Homo sapiens: one gene and its partner. The protein of the gene in region 1 purifies or fractionates together with the protein of each later gene. This does not show direct contact. Each region holds a gene or a part of one and is shown on either strand. Other genes may lie near its edges.

The links.
Region 2: the proteins of HSP90B1 (region 1) and NDUFA9 fractionate together in Homo sapiens (co-fractionation; one large-scale study listed by BioGRID). This does not show direct contact.

The regions. Positions count from the first base shown.
Region 1 is NC_000012.12:103,943,910-103,947,409, forward strand, and holds part of HSP90B1 (endoplasmin precursor), read left to right. Parts: intron 1-2,708; coding exon 2,709-2,787; intron 2,788-2,876; coding exon 2,877-3,032; intron 3,033-3,401; coding exon 3,402-3,500.
Region 2 is NC_000012.12:4,655,614-4,659,113, forward strand, and holds part of NDUFA9 (NADH dehydrogenase [ubiquinone] 1 alpha subcomplex subunit 9, mitochondrial precursor), read left to right. Parts: intron 1-2,134; coding exon 2,135-2,226; intron 2,227-3,422; coding exon 3,423-3,500. UniProt on the Homo sapiens protein: Accessory subunit of the mitochondrial membrane respiratory chain NADH dehydrogenase (Complex I), that is believed not to be involved in catalysis. Required for proper complex I assembly.

The DNA of each region.
Region 1 (3,500 bases):
GCCCCTTACCCAATCTTTGTTTTGGAGATAATACCAGCTTCAATACAAAGAGTAAAATTGCCTTAAATGTCTACCACTGTCTACTATAAGGTAGACAACAAGTTTACGAAGGGATTTCTCCTACATTTGATTGAGAAAGAAAAGGTCTTTGACTCATGATTTTCTGATTTTATTGTATTTGATATGTAAATGGGAATTTTCTTAATGTGTTATGCATAGTCTTTACTTTTGCATTGGATTATATGCTTAGCCTAATATCTGAATTTATTTTACATTTTTAAATGTAATAGCTGCACGAGGTTAATGACAACATTCCTCAAGTGAGTTAAGTCCATTTCAAATCACGTCCCCCACACCCCCAAGCATTAAATTATGGGTATCCAGATAGAATGTCTCATAAAGTAGACGGTACAGGACCTGTGAATTAACAGTATTTGAACTCAAGGGCCTATACCTGGAGGTATAGTGAGTCTTTGGTACTCTTTATTTTCAAGAAATATAGTATTTCAAGTTTATGTTTTAATGTCACAGCAATGATCTTGAAAATGACTTCTCCCCTACTTTTATTCTCTCTTCTTTCACCTGGAGTATGTTTCTGATATGCTATCTAGTCATCATCCTTTTTTCCCAAGGCCTAGCTTAAGGATTCTTTTTTTTTTTCCCCCGAGACAGAGTCTTGCTCTGTCACCCAGGCTGGAGTACAGTGGCGCAATCTCTGCTCACTGCAACCTCCGCCTCCTGGGTTCAAGTAATTCTCCTGTCTTAGCCTCCTGAGTAGCTGGGATTACAGGCACCTGTCAGCACACCCGCTAATTTTTGTATTTTTAGTAGAGACGGTGTTTCACCATGTTGGCCAGGCTGGTCTCGAACTCCTGACCTCATGATCCGCCCTCTGCGGCCTCCCAAAGTGCTGGGATTACAGGCGTGGGCCACTGCGCCTGGCCAGGATTATTATTCTTAAAGCCTTTTCTCACAAATGTAGTCTCCATTGTTGTCACAATTCTAAAATTCCATATATGTCTTTTAACTATAAATTTCATGCAGAGAATAGTGTTCTGTTTATCTGATATCCCATTGCAATAGTACAAGGGCCATTTAAAACATGTCCACCTATTAATTTCAGGAAATGATTAATAGGAAGTTACCTTGCATCCAACAAACATGAAGACTTACTATGTCCATGCACTGATGGTCACAGGTAGACATAACTCCTGTCTTTTCTAACATTTAGACTAGTGAAAATGACAAATCAAAGCCAGGCATGGTGACTCACTCCTGTTGTCACTCAGGAGGCTGATGCAGGAGTATCAGTTGATTCCAAGAGTTCGAGGCTGTAGTGTGCTGTAATGGCATTGCACTCTAGCTCTAGCCTGGGTAACATAGCCAGACTCCGTCTCTTTTTTATTTAAAAAAGAGGAAAAAAAGCAAGTCATAATCCGAGCCCTACATAGATAATGGGTACACCAGGATAGGGAAGGATGTGGTTCCTCCCTGTCCTCAGAGCTTTAAACTAGAGAAGAGAGAATAATCACAACCAACAGTAAAAAGCTAAGGATTTTGAAGGTATATTCAAAATGCATTTGGAACTGAGCTCAGATAAAGTTAATTTTTCTTGGAATCATTGGCGAAGGCATCGTGGAGAAGGTATTATTATTGGAGCACAATCCAGAGGCTACATAGATTTTTCTGAACTTGGGGAGGCAGAGCTACAATTACGGTAGTAAGAATAAACTAAGAGGGAACAAACAGGACATTAAATCAGTTCGTCTGTTCAGCAGTGCTCCAGGTACTTGGGACTCATCAGTAAATAAAATAGTTCCCTTCATTTCATTTTTCATCTAACCGTGTCCACTTGCTCCCCACCCCACCTCCCCGTTAAAAGGGAGCAATACAGGCTGGGCACATGGCTCACGTGTGTAATCTCAACACTTTGGGAGGCTGAGGTGAGAGGATCACTTGAGGCCAAGAGTTCAAGACTAGCCTGTGCAATATAGTGATACCCTGTCTCTATAAAAACTAAATAAGGAAACAGTGCAGTCATCCCTTTTTGTCCATGGGGTGTTGGTTCCAGAACATCCCATGGATACCAAAATCCACACATAGTCAAGTCCCTTAGGTAAAGTCGTGCCGTATTTGCATATAACCTATGCACATCTTCCCATGTACTTTAAATAATCTATAGATTACTTTTAATACCTAATGCAATTTAAGTGCTATGTAAATAGCTATTATACTGTATTGGGTTTTTTATTTTTTTCTTGTTTTGCCCTTTCTAATATTTTCAATCCGAGGTTGATTGACTCTGCAGATAAAGTAGACTGGAAAAGTACAGTCGTCCTTAGGTGTATGAGGGAGATTGGTTCTAGGACCCCTGCCAAAATCCACAAATATTCTAGTCCCCCAGTCTGCCCTGTGGAACCCGTGTATATGAAGAGTGGGAGCTCTGTGTGTGTGGATTCCACATCCCAAGAATACGGTATTTTCTATCTGAGTTTGGTTGCTGAACCTGCACATACGGAGGGCGGACTGTATTTATTGGAAAAAAAATAGCATATAAGTTCAAACCTGTGGTGTTCAAGTGTCAATAGTACATTTTGATTTTTTTTTTTTACCAAGAGTTGTTCTGTGTAATTATGAAAGAATAAGGGAAACGTATGAACCCTAAAATTGGATATGTTTTGTTAATGTTCATTTTTATCTCTTAACAGTTACTATGCGAGTCAGAAGAAAACATTTGAAATTAATCCCAGACACCCGCTGATCAGAGACATGCTTCGACGAATTAAGGTAGTATTAAAGCAGTCCTCTTGCTTGTCTTTTAATTTGAGTACTTTGTATCTTTTAATATTAATCTAGTGCATCTTCTTGCATTTCAGGAAGATGAAGATGATAAAACAGTTTTGGATCTTGCTGTGGTTTTGTTTGAAACAGCAACGCTTCGGTCAGGGTATCTTTTACCAGACACTAAAGCATATGGAGATAGAATAGAAAGAATGCTTCGCCTCAGTTTGAACATTGACCCTGATGCAAAGGTTTGTATCCCCAACCTTCCCGCAAAGGCTGGCTGGCTTTCTTTGTTTCTGTTCTTTCAGAATAGGCCTCTCATGATTGAGGGATGTAGCTTTGCGACATTTGCCTAATTTCTACCTTTTGAAAGAATTTTATTGAATGTTTGAATCCCTGTAGTGTCAGGCACTGCACTAGAAACTAAGTCCTCCTTTTACGTCCTCTTTCCTTTTTGCCTGCCTCCTTTTGTTAGCTTGGCTGTTCATTCTAGTTAAGAGGATTTAGTCTGTGGTTCTGAATAAACAGAAGTGACATTAATTATGATTTTATACATATAAATGAGCAAAGTGGAAATAAATCCAAGGCATTAATGGGCCCATAAATGTTGTGTTTAGGTGGAAGAAGAGCCCGAAGAAGAACCTGAAGAGACAGCAGAAGACACAACAGAAGACACAGAGCAAGACGAAGATGAAGAAATGGATGTGGGAACAGAT
Region 2 (3,500 bases), about 99 Mb from region 1:
AGTGCTCTATAAACATAAAAAAATCACAAATAGGGTGTTTTATAACTTGGTTGTTTAGTATAGATTTAACTTAGAACAGTCCTTTCTGAGCATTCCCTTTGTCGTCCTTTAATCTACAGGTTCTTTAGGGCAGTAGTTGCCAATGCGGTGAGGCAGGGGAAAGAGGGTAGAGGAGGGCCATTAAGGGAGTGATTAATGGAACTCTTTGATTGTCACAGTGATTGGGGAGCTGTCCTGGTTATTAGGTACAGGCACAGGGATGCTAAATATCCTACGGAGCACAGGACAGTCTCTTTCCACAAAGAGTTGTGCTGCCCCAAATGCCTGCAGCCAAGCTATTGATTGCGATACTGTCTGGGCCTTGATGCTTAAATCTACTGATCTTATAGCTGACTTCCTACTTGTGTTGTCCTGTAAGGAATGGAGTTATACATTTTCCCTTTTAAAAAATACTTGCTAAACTTTCTTACTATCTCTGGTAATATTCATACAGATTATTTGTAATCCCTTTAAATTTTGATTTATTTTCATTTCATTTTCACATTTTCATTTATTCTTGACTCAGTGTTCACAAGCTAAGTATAATACTTGTATCAGAAATTTCTTATTTCCAAAATGTTTTTCTTCTCCAAAATCTTACTATTAAGTATATTCTTGGTATTAAAGTTACAGAATCTTAGCTTATTCCTAGTTCTTTGTCCCTCAAGTTTGTTGGTCACCTTGTCAGAGCCTCAAAATTGAAGTATTTAAAAAGTGATAGGTGAAAACTTTTGAACCATTGGAATTAAACCAAATGACATCTATTCCATTATTTCTGCAGAGATTTATTTCCTGAATGTCTAGCATTGACCTGTGCTCTGAGCACGTTTGGATGACCAAGACCACAGGGAACTCAGAGACTTGTATGTTTAGTGTTTGTTTATGTGTTTATTTTCGAGAAGGACTATTTGGGGTGTGAGGTGCTGATTTCCCCGCTTTAGTCTTTGTTTGCATCTGCTGTCTGAATGTCCACTTGGTTTGCCCACCTGACTGTGTGCCCTTGGGCCTTAGCCCTGAAAATTTGGTTTCCTTTTATTACATCACTCACTGCTGTAGATTTTATGTATATTTCACTTAATCGTCATAATAACCTCGTGAGGTAAGTTGTGTTTTCTAATTTTACATGGGGTTTGAAGAGATAATTTGTACAAAGTTAGTATATGGCAAACTGGGATTTGCATTCCTGTCTGTTTGACTCCAAAGCCACTGTTTAGACTGTGTCTTTTAACCCACTTTCTATCATCAGTCCTAACTGGTTCTTCCTGCTGGGGCTTCATCTTTTTGTTCTTGAATCTGATTTTATAGTTTGTTTTCTCTTTCCTAAATTAAACAGACATCCTAGTTCTCTCTCTTTCTCTTTCATCCCCACTTTCTTTCTCTTTTCCCTTCTTGCTCTGTCTCCTTCCTATTGCACTGACTCATGCATGTGCACTTATTATTTGGTGCTAAGAAATTCTTATTACTTGTTATCTTCCATTGAAATGCTTATAGAAACCTGCCCTTGGCTCACCCTGAAGTTTTAGGTAGTTCTCTTTGACTCTTGTTTTTATGTTGTTAATGGAGAAATTACTAGATCTGGGGTTATAAAAGAGGAAAGAATTAAAAAGAAATAAGAAAATAGTCATGAATGGCCCCAACTAACACTAGTCTTTAAAAGACACTCTTCCTATCTTCAGTCTGTAAGTGGTTGCTGTCAAGAAGGGAAAGTCTATCTCCCTAATGATCCTTGCTTCTTTGTCTGTATTTCAGGATTGGAGACTTGGTTTCCTGGGTTTCTTTTCAAACTTAGTAAGGAGTAGTTGGGTGGACAAAAACTAATATGCTCCATTAAAAATCAATAGCCTCCTTTTTAGCTCTGTCATTTGATTACCTGAGTAAAGTGTACTGTTACCTGTTTGTCTCGGAAAGAGTGAGGGAATCAGCAGGGAGTCTGAGATGTCATTTCTGTTGTAATAAATGGAGCTTGGATGAAATGGCACTATATTATGACTACAGCAGATGGCCCATTTTGAAACTTGCATTGAGGAGGCTGCAGAAGTGTTGAGTGCTGAGGTATACCCCTATGTTTTCATCCGATTGCTTTCTGCTATTATAGGAATGGGACGCGAGAGATAAAGATTCTATCCGACGAGTAGTACAACACAGCAATGTGGTCATCAATCTTATTGGACGAGACTGGGAAACCAAGTAAGTCTTTGACTCTTGTTTCTTCTTTGCTTAAGTCTTTCTTAGGGTTTAATGGACCTTCGCTGGGCACCTTTTATGTGCCAGCTATCACAGTGACATTTTCAATTAGTGAATAAGGGTTGGTTGAACAACCACTTGCATACCCAGTGACACCCCTGAGGAGATGTAGCTGACATTAAGTCTGGTATAAGTCAGCAGTGTGATATACTGCCCATAAAAAGCCAGTAGGTGGTATTGGTGTGGCTGCTGTTGGTCCTGTACTTGGATCAGTCCCTATGGGATGGGGTTAAGAAATAGGATTTTGCCTGTTCTGCTGTTTAGCAAGCTGAACTTTGGTTTTTCTTGTGTAGACAGTGTTCTAGATGTCTTTTCTGCATTGTTAATTGGAGGTGGCGTGAGGACTAATTTGAACAGTTCTTTGTATGGATTGTTTATTAACAAATAATGTTTCAATCCTATAGTCCACAACACTTTGTTTACACCTCTTTTTATAGTGTTAAAATTTGACTTAGTTTTTTAATATGTGTCTTCTCATCAAATATTTTATAAATTCTTTGATGACTTGGGGGTCTTATTCAACTTTTTATCCCCCCTAATGATTAACATAGTGTATTGTACAGAGTAAACATTTAGTTAACGTTACCGAATGAAATTGTTGACTGACTTGTTTTTAGTTTCTTTTTTTTCCCTTGCGGGAAACAAAGTCCCGGGGTAAGAAGTGATTCCTAACACTTCAGCAGCCAGTACGGCCAGGTTTCTTTAAAGGGCCTCAGCCTCAGGATTCCCTGATAATGCAGAACATGAAGTATACTGGATTTCTAACTTAAAGTAGTCCTTAAATTGTGTAGAGTAATGACAGCAGAGCTGTCAACTTTTTTAAAAAAATAATTTTAGCTTAAAAAAATTAAAAATTTTTTTTCTTTTTTTAGAAATAGAGACAGGGTTTTACTGTTTTGTGCAGGCTGGTCTTGAACTCCTGGGCTCAAATGATTCACCCGCCTTGGCCTCCCAAAGTGCTGGGATTACAGGCATGAGCCACCACACCTGGCCAAATTTAGCTTTAAGTTAAATCATTGCTGTTTAAAAGTTTAAGTAGTGTGAATTTCAGTACTGTTATGAAAACCATCTTATCACGTAAAGCTTTGAGATCCTGTGTGTGGAGTTCTTAACCAATCCTTTTATTTTTTATCTTCCAGAAACTTTGATTTTGAGGATGTTTTTGTGAAGATTCCCCAAGCAATTGCTCAACTGTCCAAGGAAGCTGGAGTTGAAAA